Regions from separate parts of the Homo sapiens genome. Here regions 2 and 3 are each linked to region 1. The links come from fine-mapping of genetic effects on gene expression. A gene starts in region 1. Each other region holds a variant in brackets. All regions are shown on one strand. Distances are from middle to middle.

Region 1 (2,500 bases):
CTCGTCTCTGCTGATTAAGTTAATTTAATAAGTGATCAATGTTTTACCTGTAGGAAAACAGGCTAACCACTTTAATGAAGTTGGGGTGGATGCCAAAGCAACGCGTAAAGACGAAACTCCTCTCCGGGACCCTCCTGAACACCTGTTGAACTCCAGGGCTTCTAACTTTCCGTACTAAAGCCTCCCGGACACAAGCTCGGGAGTGTTTAGACTTTGTGGAAGTGCGTGCGTATATTCAAGGTTTCCATCTTGCTTAATCAACAAAACTAGTTACTAATTATTTATGAATCACAGGGCTGAAACAAACTTTCTTACCTTGAGCAATTAAGGAGTGGCAAGCAGAGGAGCGGGACTGGTTCTGAATTTAGCCGGGTGGTGCCTGTCCCTTCCCTGGTTACCGACCTGCCCAGCTCTTCAGAAAGGTCAAAGGTGCGTCCCTCCTCGGCTGGGAAAGGGGCACATCTCCCAACAAAACCATACGCATACATCCAACCTGGGGAGCTCCGGAGTTGGGGTGGGGGGGCGGCAGCGACGTGAGGAGCCAGGCTGCACGCTGTCTGCGCACACGGGGGTTGGGGGCACCGATTCCGCACCCAATCCGGCCCGGAACCAATTCCGACCCAGGGACTCCGAGAGACCGCGGGCCCAGGGCGCGCACGCCGCACTCTCCGGGGGTCCAGGACGCCCGACGTTTCGGAGGGTAGCGCGATGGGTCTCGAAGACAACCACGGGCAATCCCCAAAGCTGTTGCCCTGGGGCACGATCCTTCTCCACCCTGTCGGACACCCCGAGGACCCCCAAATTCCGAGGCTCGGATGCCCAGTCCTCTGTCTTCTGCGTCGAGACGCGCCCGGAGCCCACCGGCCCAGCGATTGCTACCTCCTGCAGGACGCGAAGCCCCCAGCGGCCTGACTGTGGAGGGGAACCCACCTCTCCGCGCCCCCGCGTCCGGGGTCCCCGGTGCCGCGCAGCCTCGCGCCTGAGCGCCCCTCCGCCCCCGCGCGTCCTCCACGCTGGCGAGCAGGTGACCGAGTCCTGCGACCCCGCGCGCACGTACTACCCACCCTGGGTCCCCCGCGCCCCTAGGCGCGGCCCCTTACCTCGGAGCGGGCCGGAGCGGCCCCGCGGGGCCGGGCGCGGACTGGGCCGGGGAGACGCGCCTCCCGCCGCCGCTGGGAGACGAGGCGGCGAGCGGGCGCGGCGAGCTCCTCCCGGGCGGCGGCGGGAGGCGCTGCTCTAGCTGCTGCCGCCGCCGCCGCCGCCGCCGCGGCTGCGGGTCTCCGGGCTCCGCGGCCGCCGCTCCTGGGCCGCAGCCGCGCGGGTCCCTCGGCTCCTGCGAGAGGCCGGCTGCTCGCGCGGCAAACTCTTCCGCACGCAGAGCCGGCGGGGAGAGCCGCCTCCGCCTCTGCCTCCTCCCCTGCCTCCTCCCTCCACCCTCCTCCCTCTCCACCTCCCCCTCCTACCCCCACCCTCCTCCTCCTCCCCTCGCCTGCCTCCGCCTGCGGGGTCTCTCCTGGCCCCGACCCAGCCTGGGACAAGCACCCCGCGCGCGCCGCAGGCAGACGGACCCCCGGCCCCCTAGACCCCCGGCTTCCCTGGGCGGCGCAGACACCCGCGAGTCCCCAGGCCGCCGCAGCCTCTGCTGGGCTGCCAGGGACGCGCGGCGGGGTCGGGCCTGGGGCGCAGGGTCGGGGTTGGGCGCCGGGGCTGGGGGAGGGGGGGGTTGTGCTTCCAGGTGAGCCGGCCCAGAGGAGAGGCAAGTGGACTAGAGGCTGCCAGCCGAGGTCCCATTAAAGTTGTCACTCGGGGGGAACAAGGAATCTGCCGCCCCCGCCTAGTGTAGACCCTCGCAGTGCGGGCCGCCACCCTGCTGTCCCGCGCAGGGGATGAAGGGGGACGAGCACGCGACTGTCACCCCCTCCACACTGTCCTCCAGGGGCAGGGTTGCGCGCAGGTCTCGACCCAGGGCACAAAGCGCGTCTCTGCGGGGACCACTGCGATTTCTCAATGAGCGGCGGGGGTGCGGCCCGGGGGCAGGTGGGAGGCGGGGGTCGGGGAAGATGCGGGCGAGCGGTGGTCGGCGGAGGACAGCAGCGACTGCTGGGGAGGAATAACCAGTGCCTGTCCTAAGGCGAACGTAGCTGGTCCGGAAAATGGGTCAAGGATGGAAAGGAACCGGCTAATTGCCCCCCTCCCCGGCAGGGGCACGTGGGGTGTGGGGCTGCGGCCAGGAGCGGGCACTTGGAGCTCCACTCTGCCTCTCCCTCCCCTCCTCCGCTGCCCTCCTCTCCTTTTGCACCAGTGCAGGAAATGTTCCACTGACCTACATATTTTTCCAAACATACGTGACCTTTTTTTTTTTTTCCTCTGTGGGAGGAGACAGGCGAGAATCCAAGAAAAAGAAGCTGGAGAGAGAGGCGCGCGCGAGAAACAGGGAGGATTTTACCAAGGTTCCCGCAAACGCCAAGCGGAGGGAGGCAGAGGTACAGGAATAATCCCC
Region 2 (2,845 bases), 160 kb after region 1:
TCATTAGGTTATCTCTGCTTCCCCTGTCCAGTGCAATGATCGGGTCAGGATGGGCACAGACCCAAGCTGGGCCAATCAGATCACACCTTGGGGCTTCTGTTTAAGCTTTGGGAATAGACGCGCTTTCTGTTTCATGGGGTGCAGTAGCCCTGAGGACAGTGTAAGCCTAGAGCCACCAGTGGCTGCCTTTGCTACCCTGTGGCGTGAGCCTGCTGGATAGTGAAGACAGTGTAGACGAAAGAGCTGAGAGGTGGAGTGACAGCTTTGATAGCATTGTTTGAATCTCTACTTTCCATCACGCCTGAAGCTACCTGCACTCTGGGACTTCTCAGTATATTTCCTTAAAGCAGTTTGAGTTTAGTTTTGATCATTTGTACTCCAAAATATTCCTGAAAAACGCTCCCTAACATTTTATGCTCTTTCTTTCTACCAAAACTCAGAAGCTCTTTGCATGAGTGTCATTGGAAATCCACTGACCCAAATGCCATAGGCTGAACTTAAGCCATTATCCTTAACACATTCAATTCCATATAAGAAATTCTTCCCTGAAATCAATCAGGGACCAACTTTAGGACCAGCTTAGGGTCATCCTGGCTATGAAGAGAACAGCCTGACTTTATTAATTTGTTCTGATGAGGAACTTCCTGCTGAACTAATTTGGACCTAGATGGGCAATTTAGTTAACTCCATGAGCTTCTGTTTCTACATCTGTAAGATGAGGGATAGAAGTACCAGTATTGCAGGATTATTCAATTTTGTTCAGTTCAGTTCAATCTCTTTCCAAACAGCTCAGGTCGACACAGCTCATCCAGTTCCACTCCCATGCAGGAAGGCCTCAAGTGACTTAAACTGTACTTAGACAATGTCCTTCCTCACCTAATCATGGCTCAGGCTGGGCCAATCACGCTCCCTTTCCAAGGAACTGGGCACTGTGTTGCAGGAGCTCTACTCTAGGGAAACCAGGATGCATCCGTGTGAGAGGCCTAGTGAATGGAGCAAAGGTGTAGAGAAAAGCAGAGAGAGACGTGTAAGGACAGGGTCCCACGCCTGTGAGGCCCAGGAGATCTCCCACTTTGGGACTCAGGAGGTATCTCAATATATGTCCACTAAAGAGCCCTTTGGGCCTCTAGCTAGCTGGAGAGGTTTCTTTCTTTCTTTTCTTTTCTTTTCTTTTTTTTTTTTTTTGAGATGGAGTCTCGCTTTGTCGCCCAGGCTGGAGTGCAGTGGCACGATCTCGGCTCACTGCGAGCTCCGCCTCCCGCGTTCACGCCATTCTCCCGCCTCAGCCTCCCAAGTAGCTGGGACTACAGGCGCCCGCCACCACGCCCGGCTAATTTTTTGTATTTTTAGTAGAGATGGGGTTTCACCGTGTTAGCCAGGATAGTCTCATCTCCTGACCTCGTGATCCGCCCGCCTCGGCCTCCCAAAGTGCTGGGATCACAGGCGTGAGCCACCGCGCCCAGCAGAGA[A/G]GTTTCTTTTTATTACTCCTAAAAAGCAGCAGCCAATCCCTGAGGATAGTTCTTAGCTGAAAATCACTTCCGGTTTCCATGTGATCCTGTGGAAGCCCCAGTCCACTCCTCTGTGAAAAGGGCTATCAAAGTTGCTTCACCTCAGAGGATTAGAGCTCAGTTGGGATAATGGATGTGGAAAGGAATCTTAAACTTGGAAGACAATAATTTCCCGTAGGAACAGTTGCAATTTATTGGACCCGCTTACTCTTCTTTTGAGCTTTTGTACCGACAGGCGAGCATCACACGCCTCTCCTCGTGATCTCTACACAGATCTTACTTCTTGAGGTTACTCACAAGGAGCCAGCTCAGGAGACTGAGCCGGGTGTAGGATAACGAACGGTTCAAAGAGGTCCTTTTCTGATGCCGAATGTCCTTGCTACTAGCCTGAAATTCCATAATTACAGGTTGATTTCCTTATGACTTGAAAACACACTTGAATTAAAATGCAGACTAGGCAAAGAGTCCTTAGATTTGACACCAAAATCATGACCCACAAAAGGAAAGATGATATATTAGCCTGCTTAGGCTGCCATAACAAAATACCATAGACTAGGCGGCTTAAGCAACAGCAACGTATTTTCTCACAGTTCTGTAGGCTGGAAGTCCAAGATCAAGGTCTGATAAGGTTCAGCTTCTGGTGAGGGCTGCCTTCCTGGCTGGTAGACAGCTGCTTTCTCACAGTGTCCTTGTGTGTGAGAGAGAGAGCTCTAGTCTGTATTTTTTTTTTATTGATTTTTTTCTTAAATAAAATCAATTTTAACATCCATTATAAAAACTTTAAATCTACAATAGGGTCAAAATAAAATGTATAAAACCTCCTTTGCATGCCCCTCATTTAGTTCTACTCCACGGAATTAATGATTGTTAATATTTTCTTGTTTATCCTTTCAGAACTCCATTTATTGGTGAGAATGGTGTCATATAAAATGTCTTAGCCAGGTGCGATGGCTCATGCTTGGATTCACAGCATTTCTGGAAGCCAAGGTGGGAAGATCGCTTGAGGGCAGGAGTTCGAGACCAGCCTTGGCAATACAGAGAGACCCCATCTCATATGTGTTTTCTTACTCTTTCTCTTGGACATTTATTTGTTATATTTCTTCCTCTTTTTACAAAACCTTTGATTTATCTGTTTATGTGTCATGCCAAATTCAAATGAGAGTGATAGACTCTCTTGTATTGTGGGGCACCTGTTTAACTTAAACTTTGCCCAGAGATTGTCCATCAGGTATTTCCTGACTAATCTTTTCTTGGGATACTGTTTCTGTTTCTCATTTCCGTTTTCCTCTTTTTTTTCCTGTTCATCTTCCAGCTCCTTTTCATTTTCCTCTTCTTTT
Region 3 (2,500 bases), 180 kb after region 1:
TGGGCATAGGACAAGCTAACTTTGGGAGGAATTGAGTTTATAGTTTACATTTAAAGCAAAGGTGATAATAGCCCTTCCCCAAACTAAACCACCTTTGTAAAACTAATGAAAGGTCACAAGGTTAAGATTATGAGAGAGAGGGGCCTGAATTCTGACAAGACAGGCATAGTTTCTAGAATCCCTTACTGCTCAGGGGTCATGTGGCCAGAGGTCACAAGATTTGTGACTTTTCCAATTGCTCCTATAAATAACATCGCTATTGTAGAACTGAAGATTGGTTTTTGAGATATCTTTCAGACTGACCCCACCAGGACTCATGACTCATGGCTCAACAGGTCTTGTGGCTCCCATGTAGAGGCAGACTCAGTGCACGAGGACCATTTTCCACACCCTTGTGATTTCATCCCCAACCAATCAGCAGCAGCCATTCCCTAGCCCCCTGCCCACCAAATTATCCAAAACACCCTAATATCCAAGCTTTTGGAGAGACTAATTTGAGTAATAACTCCAGTTCTCCCACGTGGGTCAGCCTCACGTCATTTAAACTCTTTCTCTATTGCAATACCGTGGCCTCAGTGAGCTGATTTTGTCTGCGCTGTGGAAAGGAAGAACCAGTCAGGTGACTGCAGTTAGACAAACTGGAAGTTAATCTGTGGGTCTTTCACTGACCAACAATGACTTCATCTCTCTGAGCCTCAGTTTCCTCATTTATAAAATGGTGCTCATAGCAACTGTACCTGAGTGTAACAAGCCCAATGCCTGAACTCTGATACCCCCCAAGGAAACACAAATAGGCAAGTCAGAAATCCTCTTTTATAACAAAGCAGGGAGCGGAATGCACCAGACATCCCCAGCAAGGCTTTCTAAAACTCTCTTCAAAGTTGTATTCCACAGGATACCGGCTCTCTCTCCACTCCCCACCATCCCCCACCACACTCTCAAATATTTTCTTCTTCCTGAGCTCTCCATGCCCTTTGTTCTGTAGATCAACGTGACTTGTAGATCAATGTGTTCTATAGATTAATATTCAGACGTCTCTGGTACTGCACCCTACCCTCTGCAGCACATCAGTGGGGTGGGGTTGAGTTGAGGGTTACACAGAATAA[T/C]AACTTTTTTTTTTCTGATACACAATCATGCCATAGGTTGACATGATGATTAAAGAAACCACAGATGCAAAAACCACTAACAATAAGCCTAAAATGTGGAGCAAGCTCAGTAAAAGTTCACTTCCTTCCTCCTCCCGCAGACACAAAGATCAAACGTGCAAAGATCAAATGTATCTGAGAGGGTTTGGGAAATGGAGCACACAGTAGGGCCCTATTCTGATGAAAGCGCTGATCTGATGCTGAGATAAGAGGTAGCAAAGTGATGGTCTAACCCCACTTGGGGGTGCGATCAGCTATCCTTACATGGGCCAACTCCCAGGGAGGGATGGGGTCTCCCCTCCTGAAGGGACAGAGGAGAGGAAGGGAGCAGGGGTGGTGGGTGGTCTAATGCTAAACCTATGAAAGGAATGGTGATCTCAGAGGGGGTGGGGTTAAGACACTGATCTGTGGGCCAAAAAAAAAAAAAAAAGATACCTCTAGGAGAGTCAGTTAGCAGGAGCCTATCCTCATTTGTAGTTGGAAAACAGCCTGGTTGGGGCTATTTGGTCTCTTCTAAGTCAACTAAAAACACATTGAGACCAGGCACGGTGGTTCATGCCTGTAATCCCAGCACTTTGGGAAGCCGTGGCAGGAGTACCACTTGAGCACAGGAGTTCAAGACCAGCCTAGGCAACAGTGAGAGCTTCTCTCTCCTCCCACCACCCGCAAAAAAAAAAAAAAAAGAGCTGGGTGTGGTGGTACATGCCTGTGGTTCCAGCTGCTCAGGAGACTGAGAATGCAGTGAGCCAGGATCACACCACTGCACTCCAGCCTGGGTGACAGAGCCAGAACCTCTCTCAAAAAATAAATAAATAAAATAAATAAATAAATAAAATATATTTTTATTGAATGAAAATGATAACACATGCGTGTGTGTATGTGTGTGTGTGTATATATACATATATATATATATATATATATATATATGACTCCTTCCTTTTTTTCTAGTATTTTCCCTAATTACACAACAGAACAAAACAAGAAGGAAAGAAACAAGGTCAAGCTTTCTAGAAGGCCTGGATTTTTTCTCTATGAGGAAAATAAAATCATGCAGCCCCTTAGGGTTTCAGTCAGTGATCCTGTTATGGGCTGAATGTTGTCCCCCAGCAAATTCACATGGTGAAGTCCTAACCCCCAGTACCCACAGATGGTGACGGTATTTGGAGATTGGGTCCTGAAAGAGGTGGTTAAGGTAAAATGGGGTCACAAGGGTGGGCCCTAATATAGTATGGCTGGTCTCCCTATTAGAACATGAAGATGGCCATCTACGAGCCAAGGAGAGGGGCCTCAGAAGAAACCAGTCCTGCTGACACCTTGCTGTTGAACTTCCAGCCTCCAGAATTGTGGGAGAAATA

What was found. PIP is the estimated chance that this variant, and not a neighbour inherited with it, causes the effect.
Region 2: its variant is fine-mapped to the expression of NPAS2 in whole blood (TOPMed, PIP 0.98).
Region 3: its variant is fine-mapped to the expression of NPAS2 in whole blood (TOPMed, PIP above 0.99). The same link has a PIP of 0.9 or more in T cells and blood mononuclear cells.

Annotation. Positions count from the first base shown.
Region 1 is chr2:100,819,015-100,821,514 of GRCh38, reverse strand. It overlaps NPAS2 (neuronal PAS domain protein 2), which reads right to left and starts at 1,376. Exons shown (of 21, transcript NM_002518.4): 1 at 1,101-1,376.
Region 2 is chr2:100,660,343-100,663,187 of GRCh38, reverse strand. It overlaps the pseudogene NANOGNBP1. Among named protein-coding and RNA genes, the nearest start is that of LINC01868, 18 kb to the left of the region's middle. The variant A/G (reference allele first, on the strand shown) is at 1,470.
Region 3 is chr2:100,642,951-100,645,450 of GRCh38, reverse strand. The region is part of intron 3 of LOC107985814 (a long non-coding RNA gene); the gene reads left to right. Among named protein-coding and RNA genes, the nearest start is that of LINC01868, 36 kb to the left of the region's middle. RefSeq lists an enhancer at 2,160-2,500. The variant T/C (reference allele first, on the strand shown) is at 1,107.